4 linked regions of the Homo sapiens genome follow. The protein of the gene in region 1 interacts with the protein of each later gene in a pairwise test. Each region holds a gene or a part of one and is shown in the gene's direction. Other genes may lie near its edges. The genes, in order: TRAPPC6A, RAB3IP, TAX1BP1 and GOLGA6A.

Region 1 (5,847 bases):
CGAGGTCAGGAGATCAAGACCATCCTGGCTAACATGGTGAAACCCCGTCCCTGCTAAAAATACAAAAAAATTAGCTGGGCGTGGTGGCGGGTGCCTATAGTGCCAGCTACTCAGGAGGCTGAGGCAGGAGAATGGCGTGAACCCGGGAGGCGGAGCTTGCAGTGAGCCGAGATTGCGCCACTGCACTCCAGCCTGGGCGACAGGGCGAGACTCTGTCTCAAAAAAAAAAAAAAAAAAAAAAAAAAAGACAGGGTCTTGCTGTTGCCTGGGCTGCAGTACAGTGGCATGATCATGGCTCACTGCAGTAGCGACCTCCTGGGCTCAGATGATCCTCCTGCCTCAGCTTCCCAAGTAGCTGGGACACGGGTGCATGCCACCACACCTGGCTAACTTTTGTATTTTTTGTAGAGAAGGGGTTTCGCCATGTCGACCAGGCTGGACTCGAACTCCTGGACTCAGCTGGGCGCGATGGCCCACGCCTGTAATCCCAGCACTTTGGGAGGCCGAGGTGGGCAGATCACCTGAGGTTGGGAGTTCGAGACCCGCCTGGCCAAAAGAGAAGAAACCCTGTCTCTACTAAAAATACAAAATTAACCGGGCGTGGTGGCTCATGCCTGTAATCCCAGCTACTGGGGAGGCTGAGGCAGGAGATTCACTTGAACCCGGGAGGCAGAGGTTGTGGTGAGCTGAGATCGCGCCGTTGCACTCCAGCCTGGGCAACAAGAGCGAAACTCCGACCTCCCAAAGTGCTGGAATTACAGGAGTGAGCCACTGCGCCCGGCCTAATCTTTCTTAAACGTATGTATAGCTCACATTTATTTCAGTGTTTAATATTTCAAGTGTTTTCATCCTTATTTAGAAGTTTGGTGATGTGTTTGTACCAGAAATATGGCATTGGAACTTCACTCTTGTTTATGTTAATTAACCTGCGTGAAATTGGTTTCATCATATGTCATTTTGCTTAAAGCCATAGTTTCCAAGAGCCTGTTGACAGCATTAGGTAAGGACTTACGGTGTCCTTTGTTGATGCACGTTGTCTCATCAGCCAGTCTGTTAAGCACCACCCACATGCCAAGCTCTGTGTTGGCTGCTGAAGGCCGGATGTGAATTGGTCAGCCTGGGTCCCCACCTTCACAGAGCTGTGTCCTCATCCAGGGACAGTGTGCAGTGGGCAGGGCTGGGGACGCAAGCTGGGAGGGAGGAAGGGAAGGAAGTCGGTACAAAGGCTCAGAAGTCTGAGCGAATGTCCTCAGGGGGCAGAGGAGAGGGTGAGGGAGGGATGGAGGCAGCTGGGCCCGCAGGCTGCAAGAAGCCTTCCTCGGACACGCTCTCCAGGCTGGGAGACCCGCTCCAGGGCTGGAGCCAAGCAGAGAATTCGCATCCCCATTCGGATGGCTGCGCTGATGGTGCAGCCCTGGAGGGAGGAGGCGGTAGCTGCCATTCCCAAGGGAAGGTGGGGGTCAAGGGCAGGAGAGGGAGGGCTGCAGGGCTCAGGCCTGGTGACTGCAGGCTCCTGAGAGCAGCCAGCGGGAGGGTGAGCTTCCTTCAGCTCAGGGCTGCACACCTGCCGCCTCTGTTCCCCCACTTCTGCTCTGCCAGGCTTTCTCTGAAAAACCTGGCGCCTCACGCCCCAGCCGTCCTGGGATTTCTGGTGCCCCCCAGTCTGGGCCTCCTCCCTTCCTCTGCTTGCAGCAAAACACCCGAATGAAAAAAAAAAAAAAAAAGATCCATGGCCAGGTGCAGTGGCTTTTGCCTGTAATCCCAGCACTTTGGGAGGCCAAGGCGGGCGGATCACTTGAGGCTAGGAGTTTGAGACCAGCCTGGCCAACATGGTGAAACCCCATCTCTACCAAAAATACAAAAATTAGCCGGGTGTGGTGGCACACAGGCCTGTAATCCCAGCTACTCGGGAGGCTGAGGCAGGAGAATTGTTTGAACCCGGGAGGCGGAGGTTGCAGTGAGCCAGCATTGCACCACTGCACTCTACCTAGGCAACAGAGTGAGACTCTGTCTCCAAAAAAGAAAACTCGCCAGGCGCGGTGGCTCACGCCTGTAATCCCAGCACTTTGGAAGGCCGAGGCGGGCAGATTGCCTGAGCTGAGGAGTTCGAGACCAGCCTGGGCAACACAGTGAAACCCTGTCTCTAATGAAATACAAAAAATTAGTAGGGTGTGGTGGCGTATCCCTGTAGTCCCAGCTACTCTGGAGGCTGAGGCAGGAGAATTGCTAGAACCCGGGAGGCGGAGGTTGCAGTGAGTCAGAGATTGGGCCACTGCATTCCAGCCTGGGCAATGAAGCTAGACTCCATCTCTTAAAAAAAAAAAAATCCATGAGCATCTCCTCTCCTCCAGCCATGCCCTCCACACACACAGGCACGTGGACAGACACCGAGTGCAGCCCTCCTACCTGGGGCCTGCCTCTGCCAGCACAGTCCCCTCCTGTATGGACCCTGGCCTACCCTCCAGACACTACATGGCAGCCACTGTCCTTTTCGAGCACCCAAACGAAGATCTGCCTGTCCCGAGCTTCCACGTGTTCCCCAGGGATCTTGGCCAATATTATAAGGCATGATGATCATGGTTGACTTCCACAGCCCCCTTTCCTGTGGCCCAGCCTCCAGCCCTTGGGCAGGTCACCTGGAGCATCTTGGTGGAGTCGCAGCGCCCACTTCCCAGGGCATTGTGAGGGTTCGCGCTGAAAGCACGTGCAGCCTGTCATGGGGGTTATCAGGAAAAGTCATGGAGGAGGAAGGGAGCCTGGGGAAGACCCCCATTGTTCCTGAGGGAAGGGGGAGCTGGTTCTTGGGGGCTGATGATCTGGGGATCCAGAGAGCCTGCAAGGTCTGCAGAGGTGGGTGAGGGAGCCCCAGCACCCTAGAGGCCTGCCCCTGCCCTGGCCGGGCTGTGCCAGAGCCCCTCCCTGCTCACCCCTGAACTGACGAGCACCAGCAAGTTGGTCTTTGGGTCCCCTGGCAGGTCCCCCCCTGGGTGGCCCCGGGTTCGTGGTGGCTAAGGGCCCCTGAGCATCTCTCCCCTGGCCTTCTAGGGACAGAAGATGAGCCTGTCGGTCCTGGAGGGTATGGGGTTCCGTGTGGGCCAGGCTCTAGGCGAGAGGTGAGCGCGGCCCCTCCTGCTCTCCCCCAGCCTGGCTGGCAGGGCTGGGCAGGCCCCGGGCGGGGAGGGTTGCATTGCTCCATGCAGGAGTCGGGCCTGTCTTCCTCCCTCTTCCTGGCCTGGCCCCACGGCCTCAGCTTGGTACTGCCCCACCAGGCTGCCCCGGGAGACGCTGGCCTTCAGGGAGGAGCTGGATGTCCTCAAGTTCTTGTGCAAAGACCTGTGGGTGGCGGTGTTCCAGAAGCAGATGGACAGCCTGCGCACCAATCACCAGGTGGGAGCACCCCGGCCTGCCCGTCCAGCTTCCTCCTGAGGGCAAGACCAAGAGAGTGGGAGGGGAATCCCCCGGCGCCAGAGCAGCGGCTGCCGGGACCCGCCCAGAGCTTTCCCACAGGCGGCCGCAGCTCTTGCTCTGTCTGATCCTCTAAGGGAAGCCAGGAGGCTGCGCTGGGGCATAGGGGGTGTTTCCGGAACTTCTCCAGCCTACCAGGAGTGAGCCATGCATGGGCAGAAAGCCCCTGGTGGCTGCCTGCCCTACCCCCAGTGTGATGCTGCTTGTCCCAAGCTGGTCTAGTCCCCCAGTGACACCCAGGCTGTACCTGCCCTTCTGCATCTTCCTGGGCCGGGTCCCCAGCTTTTCTGCACAACCCTGGGAGGCGAGGGCAGGACCCACACTCCCCAGGGCACAGGCACCCACTCCAAGTTTGGAAGCCCTGGGCCCTACCAGAGCACTGGAGGCCAAGGCTGTGACTCCAGTGGTTCTCAGGAAGGGGGCCTTCCCAACCTCAGCCCAATCTAAGACCTGGGTTCCTGCTTACCCTCCCTGCGCTTCAAATGTACAGGCCCCGACCCCACCCACCAGCCTCTCCTCTCCCCCAGGGGACCTACGTCCTGCAAGACAACAGCTTCCCCCTCCTCCTCCCGATGGCCTCTGGCCTGCAGTATCTGGAGGAAGCACCCAAGGTATGGGGGGAGCTGGGGCCTTGTCCACACCTCCCTTCCTCCTGTTTACCCAGCCCCATCCCACATCAGGCCTTTCCCCAGGCCTAAGGGGTGCCCCAGACCTCGGGTGCTGGCCTCCCCTCTCTTCCCATGCTGGTCTGTGTTCCCTCCTCAGTTCCTGGCCTTCACCTGCGGCCTCCTGCGCGGCGCCCTCTATACCCTGGGCATTGAGAGCGTGGTCACCGCCTCCGTGGCAGCCCTGCCCGTCTGTGAGTCATGGGGGGTGGGGGGATTCTTCTCATCCCTTGAGTTGCTGGGGGCTTCAGAGTTCCAGCCCCACTCCTGTGTGTGTGCCTGGGAGGCAGGCCCAGTTTTAAGTCACCTGCTCAGCCACACGGCTGGTGCAGGCCCATCTGTGCCCCTGGCTCCGTGACGTCGCCAGCCCTGCAGAGAGAACTGTCTGGCGGTTTTGAACATCGTTTCCCAGCATGGGAGCCGAGGTGGACGCAATAGAAGTTATCCTCACTGATCCTTCGATGGGGGCGACGGCAGGCTCCAGGGAACTTGCAGCCTGCCTGACTGGGTGTCCTCTGTCAGACAAGCTGGAGCCCCATTCCTGCCTGGGGACAGCCTGCCCCACCACCTCCCCCACCTTCAGTTATTTTGCCTCTGCCGGTTCCCCAGGCCCACTCATGGGGGCCCCCGGGGCCCCCGTGGGGTAGGACCGAGCAATGCATACCACAGAAGCCCGTGCCGGGCGCTTCCCTGGGGCCACATCCGTGGCCCTCATGCTCCTGGTTACTCACACAGCTCAGGGATGCGGCCCCGTGGGCGGGAGGAAACAGCCCAACCTAGCCACTGGGGTGTCAGTGCAGGACGGGGGTGAGCGCCTAAGAGCCGTCCAGGTGCCCTCTGCCTCCCCCATCCCATCCTCAAGCCTAAGCCAGGCCTTCTCTTCCAGGTAAGTTCCAGGTGGTGATTCCGAAATCCTAAGCCTGCCTCGCACCTGCTGAGCCGCACTGCTGCCCCTGGCCTCACCGGCCTCAGGAGACGGTGGGGCCGCTGCATTTCGGGGTGGTCTTGGGAATCCCAGGCCCTAGGGGTCACATTTGCTCAGGAAGTGGGTATCAAATTGAGGTGGGGGTGTCAGAGGAGGCAAAGGGGTCCCAGCTGCGGTCAGGACTGTGGTGGGATTCCCGCCTCGGCAGCGTCACTGCCCAGTAGCTGCTCAATAAAGGCTGTGTGTGTGGAATCTGACTCAGAGCAGTGGGGGAGGATCTGTGGACCGACTGTCACAGGTCCTGCAGGGGAGTGGGTACCCTCTCTGGCTCCCATGCCCCTCAGACCTTCCCTCCCCTGCCACGTCCCCCTCCACTCCCTCCCTCCCCGTGCTCCTGGCAGAGGGATGCTGGCCTCCGGCATGGGCGGCCTTACTGGCACCTCTGCCAAGTCAACAAGTCTGGGGCTGCCCTCTGCCCGGCGATGTGCACAGAACGGAGCGTCTTCCTGGGGAGCAGGGCTGGGAGTGCCCGGAGTGTAGGCCAGGTCGGGCTGGGGCTGCCAGGGCTGGGGATGCATGGGGTAGGGGGAGGCCAGACACCCCCATGGACACACGCGGCCCCTACGCACTCCTGCTGCCCGTCCCTGGGCAGAGTGGCCCTTATGCTGCCCCCTCCCACCCCGCTCGCATCTGTAGCATCTGGGGACTCCTGGGCTTCGCCGCCCGCTGCCTGACATGGGTAAGTGCCCCAGGCTCAGAGCTGCCCACCAAGGCTGGGGGTGAACCCCAAAT
Region 2 (7,042 bases), on another chromosome or scaffold:
GCTTATAATGCTGAAGAACTTTGTAATTTAGCTTTTATGAGATACGTAATGTTAATGTAATATGTAATTCTCATTGTGTCACCAGAGATTTTTTTAAATCAAATACTCATTGAGCATCTACTCTGCAAGTCACAGTAGGGGTTAAAGGAAACTGTTCTTAAGGAATATGGAAGGTAGGGCCTTATAATCATTCCCATATCTTTTATAAGTTCTTCAAAATGTAGAACGCACTTTACATATTTTAATGAATGTCAACTAAGACAAAGTGCTAGGATAGTTGAGTAGTGGAGAGGAAGGACAGATGGATAGTGGGTAGAGATATTTGTGCATTGAGGTAATGAGGGAAAGCTTTGAAGATATTCCAAGGGAGTACGCTTTTTCACACTAAACTTTTTTCCGATATAATTCTGATTAAGATGCAGTTCATCAAAGGATAGTAAATTGGTTACTACGCATTTGATATCCTAAAAACAAAATATCTGAGCTTTTGTAAACTGCTTTCTAGCTTGTTTCTCCTTTTTTATGCTACTATCCTTAGTTGTACCAGATGGTACTCTTTTTAAAAATTTTATGCTTTTATAATACTGAGTACCTCTTTTTTGGTATTTATGAACTTTGATATTTGTGTTGTATTTGTAATTGTTTCTAGGGCCCTAGAAACATGTTTATTGGCAAGGTGGTCTCTTCCTCTAGTCTACAAGTGCTTCGAGAGTAGGGCTTACCTCATTTTATAGCTTTAACATCGGGCCAGGTAAGTACTGTGCTGTGTTTGGTGATGGATGATCAGTTGAAGAATGTTAGGATGTTTTGAAGCTGCTCTAGCAGTAGAAATTGAAATGAACATTGAGAAATGAAGGGACAAAGGAAGGAAGAGGAAGATATTTATACAACTGGGAGCATTAACTTGCTATCTCTATTTTCCCTTCTGCTTTCCTTTTCAACTTACCACTAAATGAGGTAGTTTTATAAGCTTACATCGTACATAGTCATGGTTAGAGAAAAGTGGAAAAAGTAATCTGATTTATCTTAGAATATAGGGCAACACGAAATTAGATAACTATAGCCGTAAACTGATATTACTTAGAGGAAAAAGAATGAAAATTATTCAAATAGTTCAAGTTCATGAAAGATTTGATGCTTGTCGTTAACAGTAGGATTGTAAATATAATCATAATGGCAGTTGATGAAATTCCTCTGAGGGGTATGGATACATACACAAATAAGTATATGAATTGACAGCTTAGTATGAAGAAACTATTCAAGAATGTGAGAATGCCCTATGAGCATAAAGGAGCATATAGATGATAGCTTAGAACCACTTAAATAAGTGAATTGTAATTTGATATGCCCAGATAAAAGTAATAGTATTGAATATTTGTTTGGGAGCATCTGGTTGTCAGATAAGGATAAAGTATAAAAGAAAAACCAAAATAAGTTTGAAAAAACAATAAGCAAATTTGTATCAATTCCCTGTGGGGAAAAGAATCATATTTGAACTACATGCCTCATAAAGACTAGTTTTCCCTTTCTTTCCTTTTACCTAAGATAAATAAAGATACCTTCTGATTTGTAAGACAAACCCCTCAGTATGCTTTTGCTATTTCCCCCATTACATTTTTTTCTTTCTTAGATCTTTATAAAATCATACATTTATGTTGTGCTTTACAATGTATACATTTTTACATTGATATGCCATTTGATTTTCTCAAATGTAGGCAGGGGAGATAATATCACTACCATTATAGATGTCAAAACTGAACCTTAGAGAGATTAAATGACTTGCGTCAGTTCACACAGCTTGTCAGTGACAGAATCTGAACTAGAAGGAAGGTTTTCTGAAGTTAGTCTGTTAAAATGCTCAGGTTTTCTCAAACTTCAATTTCTCCAGTTTTGATACTCTCGCAAAGTATTTACTGTTTCATTTCTATCTTTTTCAGCAAAAATGTAGCCTGAATAACTGTCTCCACTCTTTACCGCTTTGCTATTCATTCCTTCTCTAAAGACTCTTGTTTATTTATTTAGTCAGTGCGTATTTCAGCACCTGTTGAATGTTTAGTTGGCATATATTCTTAAGAGAATATGTAAAATGAAGCTTCCATTATTGAGAAAAAGAAATTTGGAAAATGATTTTTTTAAAAAATTATACTTTTAAGTTCTGGGATACATGTGCAGAATGTGCAGGTTTGTTACATAGGTATACACGTGCCATGGTGGTTTGCTGCACCGGTCAACCCATCATCTACCTTAGGTATTTCTCCTAATGCTATCCCTCCCCTAGCCCGCCACTCCCCCACAGGCCCTGGTGTGTGATATTCCCCTCCCTGTGTCCGTGTGTTCTCATTGTTCATCTCCCACTTATGAGTGAGAACATGCGGTGTTCTGTTAATTTAAATAAATATTTAATTACAAATAAATATTTGTAATTAAATATTAGCTCATTGTATTATTACAAATAATTATTTGTAATTAAATATAATATTAGCTCATAAGTTCAGAACATTTTCTGAAAACTGTCAACATAACACACTGCAATAACTAACATCTCTACACATGTCAGGTTGTACATTGAAGTGTTGTGGAATTAGGCCGGGCATGGTGGCTCACACCTGTAGTCCCAGCACTTGGGAGGTTGAGGCAGACAGTTACTTGAGGTCAGGAGTTCGAGACAAGCCTGGTCAACATGGCAAAACCCCATCTCTACTAAAAATACAAAAAATTAGCTGGGTGTGGTGGCAGGCGCCTGTAATCCCAGCTATTCAGGAGACAGATGTTGCAGTGAGCCGAGATTGTGCCACTGCACTCCAGCCTGGGCGACAGAGCGAGACTGCATCTCAAAAAAAAAAAAAAAAAAGTATTGTGGAATTAGTGGGAATTCATTTGTGATCTATTATAATAAAAATGGGAAAATTGTGTAGCCTGATTGACCATTTGAGTAATTTTGCCCTTGGGCTATTAATTACATTTGCATTTATAAACATAGAATGCTTCTTAAAAGATAAATGTGATTTTTTTTGTCATAACTAAAATGCTAGTTTGGGAAGCCAACTTTAAAATTATTATGAAAGCTAATGAAAAAATGATTTTATATATATACTTGTTTTGTTTTTTCCTCCTTTATTATACAGTATTTGAATAAATTTTGAACTTTCCTTTTTATTTTGAGAGCACTATAAATTATGGAGAGTTTCAAATAAGGTAAGTAGACACAATAGTATAATGAACCTAAAAGTTTCCATCATGTAGCCCAGTAACTATCAACAGTGATCAGTCCTCATCCATCCACTTCTCCCACTTCTATATTATTTTGAAACAAATTGCAAGTCCTGTGTAATTTCACCTGTAGGTATTTCAGTATTTCCCAAAGATAAGAGCAGTTAACTGCAGTACTTTTACAAACTTTGTTCTTTATTTATTTTTTCATTTTAATCTACATTTCCTGCTTTTATTATTACAAATTTTCAAAAATTAACACTAATTCCTTGGTATAAAATATCTACACTTTTTAAAAAAATACACAGGAATATGGGTACTATAGTAAATTCAAGTTTCTGTTTATTTTGATTTATGTGCTGTTTTTTTTTTTCCAAGTCCTGTAAGGAGCTGAATAAGTATTAAATTCTGGCATAGTAACAAAACAGAGGAGGAAATGATAACAAAAATAATATAGGGGAAAATAATAGAACACAAAGCAATAGCAAATGCTCATTTCAATAGCAGTGCTTTAGAGAAACTTCAGTTTTGTCTTTGTGAAAGTAAGAGAAGGGTTCAGAGATTAAACATTATTATTCTGTTTGGATTGTTCACTTCTTTTTTTTTAAACTTTAAGTTCTGGGATACCATGTGCAGAACATGCAGGTTTGTTACATAGGTATACACGTGCCATGGTGGTTTACTGCACCCAGGATTGTTCACTTCTTAGAGATCCTTTGCTGTGCTTTAACCTTTATTCCCATCTCCCTACTCCCTATCCATTTCAGCTTCTAAGTGTATCTCAGATGTAGTGGAGTTAGGTGTTAGAGTCAGACACACCAGAGTTTGAATACTAGCTCTGTTACTTTTTGTGTATTTGACAAAATTAATCTCTCTCAGCCTCTTTTTTTTATATATCTGTAAAGTAGGGATAAGAACCATTTCAAATGAATGCTCTGAAGATTAACTGGAATAATTGTGTGTTTGTGAATAAATATAAATGAAGCTGTTCTGAATGTTTTCCATACGTATATATGCCTCCATCCCCTCATTCCCAGTGCATGACCTTGGCATTAGATCAGACAGTAATCGTTTAACCAGCCTCTAGTCTCCAGTGAAGTTCTCATTGCCTTGGGAGTCATTTTTAAATGACTACATTACAATACATCTATACTTTCTAAAATGTAGATCTCACCATCTCTTCAGGATAAACTTTAAGCAACATTTTCTCTTTTAAAGAAGGCTTTTAATGGTCTGTCACAGTCTGCCTCTCCAGCCTGCTTTTCTGTTACTGTCTCCTTTGTTAGTTTTGTTAGTGCCAGACCCTTATTCCCTGACTGTCCTATCCTATTCCCCTTGCCCATCTACTGGACTTGTATTCAGCACTGAAAATCTGACTTATATTTTACTTCTCTTTGAGACATTCTCCTCTTCCCTCTTCCCTCCCCACAACCCTCAGAATAATCATGCCGTGGCTCGTAGAGGCTGTGTGCCATCTCTTTGGTCCATTTGTATCTGTATTCTTAGCACTTAGTATCAGGATTTGCCCGGAGGTGTTGAAGCTGGCAATCATCCTTCCATTCCAACAAGAATAAATATAATTTATCACATATATGTATGAAATAAATGTATTTAATATGTATAATAAATGTTGAAGGTTTTTAAAGAAGTGATGGAATTTGTAACTAATTCATGGAATTTATAACAGTTCAATTCATTATATGCTATTGAAGTAGCAGTCTCATTTTTAATCTCAGAAACTGTTTCTTTCATAATTCATGTTAAATTAAGAAGTCATTTGGGAATTTAAAAAGCATCTGGACTTTCCTCCCTGCCCCCCTTCCACAACTGTCTGTGAATAAATTGAAAGAGGAAAATAGTGCTTACATAATCTTAAACCTTTTCTTTTGACATGTCTTGGAATATTTAATTTCTATTATTGTGATAATACAAGTAAAACAAAATTATACTACAGGATTTATAGATGTTTACTTTTTTTGAGGAAAATCACTCAAAACAATAAGCTTTTAAACCCAAACTCAACAATCATTGCTTTTTGTTCTTAGTGATAGTGCTTGTGCTGATACAATATGATCAAAATATTTGGCCAGTATTAGGAAATGTCCTAGAGATGATTATAATAGTAAGAGCCAGTCTTAATTGGTAAGTGCCAGATATGGTGCTAAGCTCTTTAATTCTCATGACTACCTTAGGAGATAGGTACAGTTTTCTCCCCTTGCCCTTTCGTGTGTGTGTGTGTGTGTGTGTGTGTGTGTGTGTGTGTGAGAGAGAGAGAGAGAGAGGATCTTTCTCTGTTGCTCAGGCTGGAGTGCAGTGGCACAATCACAGTTCGCTATAGCCTCAACCTTCCTGGCTCAGGAGTAGCTGGGACCACAGGCGTATGCCACCACACTCTGCTAATTTTTAAATTTTTTGTAGAGATGGGGTCTCGCTATGTTGCTTTTGGTTGTTGCTTAAACATCTTGGGCACAAGCAACCGTCCTGTCTTGGCCTTCCAAAGTTCTGAGATTACAAGAACCACTGTGCCTGACCTGTCATCTCCATTTTTAGATGAGAAATTGAGACTTAGATCTTCAGGTCACTTTATTAGTAACTGGTGAAGCCAAGATTTGAGACTGATTCCAGAGTACAAGCTATTTCATGAGATAGTGAATACTGGTTAAGTTACCCTGTTGGCTTTTCTTCTAGTAGACAAGTACATTCCTTTATCTACCAGGATTATTTGATCCAATTCTACACTGAAATAGATGAAGATATTTGGGCTCAGATAAGTTACCTGCCCAGGTTCATAGATAGATCTCAGAGCTTGATCAGGAGCCTTAGCTTTCTTCTTCAGGTACTGATGCTTCTACTCTGCTGTGTTGCCATATTACCTCCTTTGTTGGAAATGATTTACTTTCTGAGTGTAGTGCTTTGAGGAATTTTAGTAAACATAGAATTCAAATTATTTAATTTTCACATATATTAAATTGATATGAAAAAAGATAAAAATCACAGCTTTAGTTTTTTTTTTTTTTTCTAAAATTAAAATTCTATGTTTCCCATTTGTCAAGGTAAGTCCAAATTAGGGGAATGTGCTTTTTGTGGAAAAATGGATTTTATTTTTTCTTTTGGACTACTGATATAAATCAAGTTGCTAGATTTCATTTAAAATATGTATATGCATTTTATTCATGTTCTTCAGATGTTTCATTGAAAATATTTTCCCATTAATTCTGATTTCTTGAGTTGTCCTAGGGATGGCTTTTGTTTTCAAGAAACATTTTAAAAATTCACTTTAATTAGAAAAAGTAAATTTCATAAGTTATTAGGATCTTTCTAGGCATTTATTAAATGAGTTAATATGTATGAAATTCTTAGCACCACTATCTGACAACATAGTTAACCTTCAGTAAAGATTGGCTGTTGTTTTTGCTGTGATAGTACTGATTTCGAGAAAGAAAAATTAACAGGAAATGCATATTAGGGATCAGAAGCAAATTGTTTTGATCAACTTTTTCTTGTGGTCTGCAGTCTGCTTTATTACCTGGAGCTCAGTAATAAGGCCAGCCAAGTTGTGTTGGTGATTCACCCATAAGAATTTAATGTGATCATCTTTTTTACATATTGGTCATGATCCTTGACAAGTTTAATTTACTAATTGGGATAATCAGTTGAAATTAGTTCTTTTTGAATCACTCATTGCTTAATGCGAAAGATACTACTGCTTAAAAATAGTAGTTTATTTTACTCTTATAAAGACGTATGTGAAATAAATCTTAAAGCTTCTATGTATTTAAAGGGCAAAAGATTTTCAGACCAGTGAGATTGGCAGCTCATTACCAGCTAAATT
Region 3 (7,042 bases), on another chromosome or scaffold:
TCTAAAAAGTAAATAAAAGTGGTGCGGGTGATACCTGGGCGGAATGTCTTGGCACTCAGGTGTAAAGGATTCTGGAAATAGGGATGTCTGCAAGGGTGCAAATTAATAGACTGGGGCTTTTGCTGTTGCCTCCTAGAAAAATTGCTGATTACATTTTTTGGGAGCAGAGGTCTGTTGAGAGTTGTTAGTCTTTCTTTTTTTGAGCCACAGTGTGAATAATTGGAAACTATTTGAATGCTGGACATTTTTTCCTTTCATATGTTTGTGTGTCCTATCGGATTAAAGTTTGGAGATAATTCTAAAGGTTTTTTAGCTGAAGATGTGAAAAACTTTCAGTAACTCTATCAACCATTACCTGAATTACAACACTTCTAAGGGTACAAAGCGTTCATATTCTAAAATGCAGTGTTTCTGCTACAGTGGGTCATATGTGGAGTGTTACTAATCTGTTTCATTTCTTTATTTGCTTTGGTTTTACTATTACAGAAATTTTCAAACATACACAAAGGAGAATGAACAGTAAAATGAACCGACACTTTACTAATCTTGTTTTATTACCCCCTCTAACATTAATTTTTTCCCCTGGAGTTTTTAAAGCAAATCTTAGACATCAAGACATTTCACTTACAGTTAGTTTAGTATCTTTATTTTTTTTTTTTTTTTTTTTTTTTTTTTTTTTTTTTTTTTTTTTTTTTTGAGACGGAGTCTCGCTCTGTCGCCCAGGTCGGACTGCGGACTGCAGTGGCGCAATCTCGGCTCACTGCAAGCTCCGCTTCCCGGGTTCACGCCATTCTCCTGCCTCAGCCTCCCGAGTAGCTGGGACTACAGGCGCCCGCCACCGCGCCCGGCTAATTTTTTGTATTTTTAGTAGAGACGGGGTTTCACCTTGTTAGCCAGGATGGTCTCGATCTCCTGACCTCATGATCCACCCGCCTCGGCCTCCCAAAGTGCTGGGATTACAGGCGTGAGCCACCGCGCCCGGCCTAGTATCTTTATTTTTTATTTTTATTTATTTTTTATTTTTGAGACGGAGTCTCGCTGTCACCCAGGCTGGAGTGCAATGGCGTGATCTCAGCTCACTGCAGGCTCCGCCCCCCAGGGTTCACGCCATTCTCCTGCCTCAGCCTCCCGAGTAGCTGGGACTACAGGCGCCTGCCACCTCGCCCGGCTAATTTTTTGTATTTTTAGTAGAGATGGGTTTTCACCGTGTTAGCCAGGATGGTCTCGATCTCCTGAACTCGTGATCCGCCCGCCTCGGCCTCCCAAAGTGCTGGGATTACAGGCGTGAGCCACCGCACCCGGCCTAGTTTAGTATCTTTAAATGATAAAGACTAGAAAAACACAGAATCACCATAATTATATTATCACACATAACAAAATTACCTTATTTTTGAATTCTAATTGTTAGGACTGGCAAATTATATTTAGTATTTATCTAAATTAAAAAGCTTAATTTGGCTTCATATGTTTAATGTACAGAAGTTCTTACTATGGTCTATTTTTCAGTAAGTTCACTAAGGCTTACATTTTTGGGCTAAAGTAAAACAAGTATTGGGAACCACTGGAAAAATACTACCACAAAAGTCAAATCTGCTTTGGGCTTGAAAAAGTTACAAGAGGAGTAAGTAAAGATAACATTGAAATGCTTCCCTGCCCCCACCCCATGTTTATTTTAGCTGTATACATAACTGAGTGCCCACTATATATTATTTATCTTTTTTATAGACATTAATGCATTCGCAAAATAATAAAATTGGAATTTAGACCAAAGACTTTATAATATACAGTTTACAGCATAACACACATAAAGAAATTCTAGAGGCATTGGAACTTGGGGAAGTGTAGTAGGAAACCTGGAAGAGGGCACTGTAGCCAGCATGTATAAGCATTTCTGATTTTGTTTCCCAGCCAAATGTGTCTGGCCCCTTAATTGTTGACTGGACGTTTCATACTTATCCTTGGCTTGCCTACTTACTATACTCCTGTTTGTAGAGGTGCACTTTAGAGAAGGGGAATCAGAATTTGACATGGTAAAGCTGCTTGCTTCTACTTTCCTTTTTGTGTAGGGAGTGTACTTCTCTCCAACTGAGAGGAGGTTTGTACTTTTTCTCAGGATGTTAGTGAAGCTACACTTCCCAGGCATTACCACAAGGTGATGCAGTGACTTTGCATATTATTTCTCCACTCCCGTGCGACCTTGACATTCTCAGTGAATTCCAACATTTTTGTAAGCTTGCCTAAGTCTGTTATCTGTAGGAGGAGTGAACCAGAGGAACTATGTGGGAATTAGAAATTTTATTATTTAAAATGGGTTGATAATGACATAATTATATTTGATTGCATTCATCCATGTAAACTTTTTAAATGATTAGTAGCTATATTGTAATTTAATAAGAGTAAAAAATGACAAGGTACTGGAATGACTTTTGTAAAATATTTCTATAATTATAGCAATGAAATTTTAAAAAGATTGGAGTGTTGGAGAGAGATTAATGAAGGCCATTAATAGGATAATCACAAATTATTTTACTTTTCAGACTTGTAACCATTGTGAATACTATATTTTAAAGTGAAATACTAGTGTTTTCTATTAGAAAATGTGAAATTCAGGGGAGGGTTTAAAAATGGAATTTCTTGTTAATAGGGCTATTTAAAACAATAGAAATAATACATTTATATATACTTGTAAAAATTCAAACAATAAATTGATGTAAAATTTAAGGTCCTTAAGTCTTCTTTTTACACACATCCCTTATAAGACTATTAACTCTATAGTGTATACTTCTTGAGTTCCTTTTGATGCATTTGTAAACATATACAAATACATATATGTATACCTATGTGCTATTTTGTACCTCAAAAACTTCAGTGAACTAAAAGTATAAGGTTGGATTGTGGGTTTTTAAAAAACTGTTATAATTGAGGTTAACAGAAGTTGAAACACTTTTGCCTTGTTTTATAAAAAAAATAGTTACAGCTTTGTTGGTTTAATTTATTTTAGGAAATGATATGTTAAATTTTAAGAAAAAAGTATTATCCTTAATCAGCTTTTGATTAAAAACATGGGACGTTTATTCTAAGCTAGTTTATTTCCTTCTTACTGAATATCTTTCTTAAAGGAAGCGTGACTATTCACTCACTTCATAGAAAAATATTATTCTCTTAATTCAGTTTTGGTAGTTGTATCTAATAGATGTTGGTTCTGTTGATTTAGCTATAGTTTCTTTTGTTGGTGTCTTGTAACCAGTAGTGAGTTTTTTTTTTTTCTTTTTTTTTTAAAGAACTGGAATTGGTGTTTTTTTTTTTTTCCTTTGTGAAGCCAGTGACTTGAGATAATCATTAATGACTTCATTAGTATCATGACCTCCCTGGGAGCCCAAATTAGCTCAGACAACTCAAAGAAACAAAATAATAAAACTCTTCAGTTATTTTAGGCAGAGTTCTCCAGTGTTTGTAAATGCTACCTGTTCATTTTTCTGATGGCTTTAGGTTACCAGGTAGAGAGTATTCATAGTTAAGTCTTTCCATGAAATATGGTTGCTGGTAGCAAAGTCCCTTTATTAGTGCAGAGGTAAAGGGGGATTGCTACTGAATATACTCTTTATCTTGGAATGCTTGCAAACCTCAGGTAGGGAGAGGCTGACAACTAGCCTGATACTCTACAGTGGTTTCCAGGTTCATGATTGACAGTCTCTTTTTGGGATATCCATTATATTCAGTAAAGCAGGACTTTGGCCATAACAGAAGCAGAGGGGACACAAGAAGAAAGTTGATATTTTTTAAAGTGCTTATTATTACAAAACTTTAAAAATTTGCCTTAGTATTTCAAACAGGTCAGCAAAAGAAACAGTTGTAAAAGCACACTGTTTTAGATCTTAGCAATAAGCCTTCTTACTAATGGCTAAAATATGAGTAGAGCCTTACTGCTGTGCTTGCTCTGTAGAAACTTCATTGATTTGTGAAGTAAATTAGATTAATTTGGTTAGCAAAAACCTTGCCCCAGTTTTCCCCATTATTACAGAGATGCCTGTTTTAATGACTCAAGCAAGTGCAGTCAGGACAGTCATAGTTTCTTATGTGTATTGTAGAATTAGTGATTGTACGGAGCCTGTGACAAACTCTACAGATTGCTTTTTTGGGTAAATCCTCATTTGTTTCTGTTTTCTCAAAAGTAGAGCACAAAATAGGGAAAACATTTGGATCTTGCAGTTTTTATAATCTGCTTTCACCATTCATCTGCTATCCAGTGCTTGGTGTTTACTAAGCCAGTGAGCGTTCATGAATCTCTAAGAGATTTTCAACAGTGTGTATTTTATTAACACTACACTTTTATTTTTATTTTTAAATATAAGTTTATTTTAATCAGTAAACATGTGGAAAGGGTACGTGAATACTAGAAGTTGAGGTAGGATCATTGATTGGACCTATGATGAAATGATAGGTTTGTTATAGGTGGAGAAGAACAAATAGGCTGAGCCATTTCAAGTAGACCAGCTAAGATTTTACATGGTTTGAGAGATTTGAACAAGCTTGTAACAGAAGCCCAAGAAGACAGGCTGGGTCTGGGATCTGTGGAAATGAGTGAGAGGTAGAAGTTGTTGGATAGTGGTTCTCTTTTCTGGTTGCATACAGGATTGAGATTACTTGGGGCGATGTAGGGGCAGGGCTATGTATATTCGTATACACACCCACAGACACACATGCACACACTCCCAGGCCCCAATCCCAGAAAGTTGTTGTCATCTATTTTTTTTTTTTAAAGGCCCCTAATGATTCTAATGTGTAACCAGGGTTGAGAAATGCTGGTCCAGGGGATTAGAAGGGCAGGAATGTAGGCACAGAGATGTTAGCGTCAGGTTTAGTTATAGGACCCCAAAACCTAGGGAGAGGGGAAGAGATGAATGGGATGGGCTAGGTTAGGGAGGAGAATGATGAAGCCCAAGGGTTCTACATAGGAAGGAAATGTTAATTGACCCATAGCCAGTAAAATACTGACTTTTAACTGTTCTTGTTTCTGTTTCTTAGTGTTTGTTACTAGGAGCCAGCAGGTTTATATTGGCAGCGTGTGCACAAAAACACCTCTGGTTCATTTGCTTTTGATTTAAATAGAAGCAGAGGGCTAGGCTTTCCAGGAGAGTTAATTTTTGGTTTTGGTTTTTTAACTTTTAAATGCCCATATAACTTTCTGAGCCAAATGGGTTTTAGTTATTTTTCCAGTTTGTCTGTATTTTTATATTTAATCAATTTTTAAGAAGTTCCAGTATTTACAAAGTATATATTTTCTTAATTATGACATGCAAATATTCATGAAACTTATATTAAATATTATGTATTTTCTGAAGGCATAAGTTTATTCTTAGTTGGTATAATTTAACTTGTATGAATTACTTGTTTCAGATTCACAATGACATCCTTTCAAGAAGTCCCATTGCAGACTTCCAACTTTGCCCATGTCATCTTTCAAAATGTGGCCAAGAGTTACCTTCCTAATGCACACCTGGAATGTCATTACACCTTAACTCCATATATTCATCCACATCCAAAAGATTGGGTTGGTATATTCAAGGTAAGAAAGCTTTCTGAATATGTTCTCCATGTAAACACTTAAAATTTTCTTTTAAAACAGATTGATAAGTAGCTTTTACTTGCCTTAACTCTGCATTAAGACTCATTTTTGTAAACATCACCATGAAATATTTAACAGTGGGGAGTAGATAAAATGGATGTTGGGAACTCCATTTCACCAGATTTTCCTCTCCCTGATCAGAAAGTTTACCTTCACTTAAGGACTTGTGAAAATTTTTTCAGAATCTTCTTTTCCTATTTTCTCCATTCATTACCTGCAATAAAAAAAGATCTTTTTCTTTGGGTTCTTATATTATTTACCATTTTTTCCAGTCATTTGAAATTAATTTTATACAGCTTGACAGCCATGTTATTATCCCTTCTACTGTCCTGCATGGCTTAAATATTGCTCAGATTGTATTACACAGTTTTAAGAGTATTCTGTTTGTATTACACAGTTTTAAAGTATTCTGTTTAACATGACTGAATAGTAAACTCTTTGATGGCAGGAGTTCTAGTTCTTATATTTTACCAGTGATTTTGTATAATACTTTCTTGAAAATGAAGGTGATCATTACAGTGGTACACCTCACTGTGCAGGACTTTTTCTGGCAATTTTAACTCTTCAAAATGTAGTGGAAAACCAAAACATAAGAATGTCCTCTGAGCAGTCAAAATAATGTCACGAATGTCCAAACAGTAAAACACATTCACTTTTCTCCTGTGTTATTCTGTAGTCTTCCTCAGAATCAGTTTGTTTTATTTTAGTTAAGATTTTTATGGGCTTGAAATTTTGATTGTCTAATCTGTATAAAGTTAAACAACAAGGAAGAAAGAAATGAATAGCTGCTAGAAATTAGGCACATTGAAAGTGTCTAGAAGTAAAAGTCCAGCCTGACGGGAAGGCAGAAAAACATTTGGACAAAACAATTTTGGCATTTAATGACTTAGTTCCTTTCTTTGAATTCCTCATTTCTTGATGTTTCTGAATACAACACAATAGTTATTTACTGTTTACTTTTTGTGTCAGTTTTTTAGGCTTGTCAAATCCCAAAATGGAGAAACATTCATTGTAACAATTTTATGAAATTAGGAGTAGTTTTTAAATTTTATTTCTTATTTTTTGAGACAGGGTCTTATTCTATCACTCAGGCTGGAGTGCAGTGGTGGGATAGTGGCTTACTGCAACCTGACCTCCTGGGCTCAAGTGATCCTTTCCCCGCAGCCTTCCAAATAGCTGGGATTATAGACACAACACCACGCCTGGCTAATTTTTAAAATTTTTTGTAGAGACAGGGTCTCACTATGTTGCCTAGGCTGGTTTTAACTTCCTAGGCTTAAGTGATCCTCCTGTCCCAGCCTCCCAAAGTGCTGGGATTACAGGTGTGAGCCACCGCACCTGGCCTCAGTAGTAGTTTCGATTTTATGGGAGATACTGGTATCAAGTTAAAGATACTGATTGAGAACTGATGTTTTC
Region 4 (3,236 bases), on another chromosome or scaffold:
GAGCAGGGGGCCACCAGGTTGCCTAAGGATGAATGAACTGGACCAGATCAGAAAGGGAGCAGGTCAGGACTCCCGCACCGACCGGTAGTGGGACTGTGCCTGGGCAATATAGCAAGATCTTGGTTCTTAAAAGGAAAAATAAAGAACAGCAGCTCACTCCCCTCTGGGGAGAGGCTGGCTCAGGGTTACACAGTCAGGGTGGGGACAGAGGTGGGCCCACAGTACCTCCCTTGTTGGGTTGTCTGAGGACCCCTCTGGCCACCTCCCTACAGGAGATGGAGGACAACATCTGGACAGTGAGGAGGAGGAGGCGCCTCGGCCCACGCCAAACATCCCAGAGGACCTGGAGAGCCGGGAGGCCACGGTGAGCCTGACTTTCCCTGCCCCGCTTTGCCACCTTCCTCTGTGGTCCCTCCCAGACCCCCTTATGCTCTTGGTTTTCCCACCTTCTGATTGCTCTGGCCCCTCACCCCTTCCGGGAGCCAGTGGTCAGACACTTTGTCACCTGTGACCAACAGGTGCACTCTCTGAGGCCCCAAGGGAAGGGGTTGTTCTCCACCTCCCTGCCTCATTTGTTCTGTCTATGCCCCTACAAGAATACTCACCTCTTGCCTTCAAGTGGCATTTTTCACCTCTGCTGGAGCCAGTTCCCAGGAGGAGCAGGCACGGCTATGTGGGCAGCGGAAGGTGTGAAGGCTGTGCTGCCTGCACCTGGCTCATCTGTTGGCCTTCGCCTGGAAGGAGCCAGAGGCAGAGGCCCCAGCCCCAGGGAGTGGGGGTGAGTTTGTGTGTGGGGAGAGCTACCGGGCCCTGAAGGAGGCCATGGTGAAGCTGAAAGGGAGTGAGTCCTGGCATGGGCCAAGAAAAGTGGGGGCGGGGCAGAACAGGTCACTCCCGAGATGTGACCCCATTATTTTGGCTCCAGAGCAGCTTTATGGACCTCCCGAAGGAGAAGGCGGACGGGACGGAGCAGGTGGAGAGACGAGAGCTTGGATTCGTCCAGCCTTCTGGAGTGACAGACGGCATGAGTGAGCGGGAGGCCAGGGCACGGGCACGGGGAGCTGCAGGGCCGTCGGAGGGACCCTAGTGTCTGAGCTGTGTCCTCTCACAGGAGAGTCCTTCACCGTATATGAAAGCCAGGGGGCAGTGCCAAACACGCGGCACCAGGAGATGGAGGATGTCATCAGGCTGGCCCAGAAGGAGGAGGAGATGAAGGTAGGGCGTGCAACATCTCTGCGGGGTTGGGGGTGGGCATGGGCGCTGGTGCAGGCTCCAGGGTGGGAGCTGAGCACCCCTCCCTTCAGGTGAAGCTGCTGGAGCTGCAAGAGTTGGTGTTGCCCCTTGTGGGCAACCATGAGGGGCATGGCAAATTCCTCATCGCTGCCCAGAACCCTGCTGATGAGCCCACTCCAGGGGCCCCAGCCCCCCAGGAACTTGGGGCTGCCGGTGAGCAGGATGGTGAGTAGAGCTCTCAGGCGGGGTGGGCAGGCAGGGGCAGGGGAGGCTCGCACTGTGCTCAGACCCCCGCCTCCCTCTCTCCGAAGTTTTTTATGAAGTGAGCCTGGACAACAACGTGGAGCCTGCACCAGGAGCGGCCAGGGAGGGTTCTCCCCATGACAACCCCACTGTACAGCAGATCGTGCAGCTGTCTCCTGTCATGCAGGACACCTAGGAGCACCCAGGCTTGCCCAGCAAACCCTGCGTGCCATTCTTCTACCAGGCAGCCGAGAACAGGGAGATAAACATCATCATCTTCTAAGAGCTGGTCAAGAAATTTAAAACAACAACAACAACAAAAAGTTACGGGGTTCATCTCCTACACAATTCATTTACTCCATTTGAATGCTAGAGCCACTCACATTTATTTGTGTTTCTAATTTACCGTTTAAATTTATTTGTAAAAAGTTAAGGGAGAGTTGGTCTTTCCCTGATGTTCTTTCTGGCATCCTTTAGCATTTTTATTTTTAATTTGATAATTGTAGGTCATTAGTATGCATATCGAGTTTGCCCTTAGGTGGTGGGAATTCAAACACACAAAGACCCACTAATTTGCACAAAACTATTCTGGCTGGTTTGGAACAGGCTGCCATGCTTTTTTAATGTTATTGCAGCATGTATATTCATTCCAGAATTCAGATAAAATGTGCTTATGTTCTGCTATTACGTTTGATCGAATCCTAACCACAGTGAGCTCTTCATTAGCTCAATATGTGGTTTGCCCTCAATTGAGCACTGTTTATTACTTTGTAATATGCCACTGTGAGTACTGACATTTAGAGTTGTTTAAAGGCCAAGAACTGGAAACAGCCTTTTCCCTATTTTCTGTGTATTGGGGATGGGAGTAATAACATTTTGGGGAGCTTTTTAAATCTCACAGAAGAGGAAAGTGGCCTGCTCTGGCAGGTGTGTGCAGGATAGAGTGTGTTTCATTTGTTCTGGTGCCAAGAATGAGCGCTGTACTATGGTAGTTCCCTTAGGATTTGTATGTGCTCTGGGCTCATGAAGATATTGCATCATGAGCTGCAGCAGTTGTACCCTTTCTTGATGACCTAAAAAGGGATTATTTCTGAGGAATGAAAGGCTCCCATCATTGACTGTGGATGTGGAAAACCTTTTCTAGCTTAGAGCATTTATATCTACAATACATTTTAAAGTCAGAGTTCATGTTACCTGTTTTAATCACGAGTATATGTCCCAGTACACAAAAGGGCACTGGTTGGCATTCTTCTTAAGGTATTTAGTGAAGATCATAAGAAATCCTTTAAGAGTTTAAATGTCCCTGGAAGAGGCATACAGGCTCTAGTCAAGAATGAATTCGAGTGAAGGAAAGCTGTGTGACACCTGGCCTTCCTCTATGTTCATGGAGCTTCTTTGAGGCTAGAAGATTGATTTTATCATCTAGACCTCTCTGGCTAATACCTATTCTTCAGCCACATTAGTTACTCTGACATAGGAATTTACTTCTTTTCTTTGAATGGAAAACACTTTAAAAATAATAACAACCATTATTATAAACCAATATATGTGAGAGTACTTAGTTGAAACAAAAAGGAGTTTTAGTAGACAGTATTATACTACACATGAAAATCAAGGCGAAGTTTATGCAACTTAAAATGTTTACAAGCTGCAGTGCAATCTAATGTTTGTGAATGTCCAAGTATTATGAGAAAAAGTGTCTATACAATGACAGACTTATGTTTCCTCACAAAGTTCTTCACAAAGAGTGAAATATGTTT

Evidence for each region.
Region 2: the proteins of TRAPPC6A (region 1) and RAB3IP interact in binary tests that used the Homo sapiens proteins (3 or more experiments, as listed by UniProt).
Region 3: the proteins of TRAPPC6A (region 1) and TAX1BP1 interact in binary tests that used the Homo sapiens proteins (3 or more experiments, as listed by UniProt).
Region 4: the proteins of TRAPPC6A (region 1) and GOLGA6A interact in binary tests that used the Homo sapiens proteins (3 or more experiments, as listed by UniProt).

Annotation. Positions count from the first base shown.
Region 1 is NC_000019.10:45,162,393-45,168,239, reverse strand, and holds the end of TRAPPC6A (trafficking protein particle complex subunit 6A), read left to right. Parts: intron 1-3,045; coding exon 3,046-3,113; intron 3,114-3,269; coding exon 3,270-3,387; intron 3,388-3,992; coding exon 3,993-4,076; intron 4,077-4,230; coding exon 4,231-4,324; exon of another isoform or gene 4,325-4,330; intron 4,331-5,016; coding exon 5,017-5,048; 3' UTR 5,049-5,307; downstream 5,308-5,847. UniProt on the Homo sapiens protein: May play a role in vesicular transport during the biogenesis of melanosomes.
Region 2 is NC_000012.12:69,741,859-69,748,900, forward strand, and holds part of RAB3IP (rab-3A-interacting protein isoform alpha 1), read left to right. Parts: intron 1-7,042. UniProt on the Homo sapiens protein: Guanine nucleotide exchange factor (GEF) which may activate RAB8A and RAB8B. Promotes the exchange of GDP to GTP, converting inactive GDP-bound Rab proteins into their active GTP-bound form.
Region 3 is NC_000007.14:27,743,121-27,750,162, forward strand, and holds part of TAX1BP1 (tax1-binding protein 1), read left to right. Parts: intron 1-5,397; 5' UTR 5,398-5,404; coding exon 5,405-5,566; intron 5,567-7,042.
Region 4 is NC_000015.10:74,069,346-74,072,581, reverse strand, and holds the end of GOLGA6A (golgin subfamily A member 6A), read left to right. Parts: intron 1-272; coding exon 273-364; intron 365-925; coding exon 926-1,028; intron 1,029-1,111; coding exon 1,112-1,215; intron 1,216-1,304; coding exon 1,305-1,458; intron 1,459-1,544; coding exon 1,545-1,672; 3' UTR 1,673-2,725; downstream 2,726-3,236.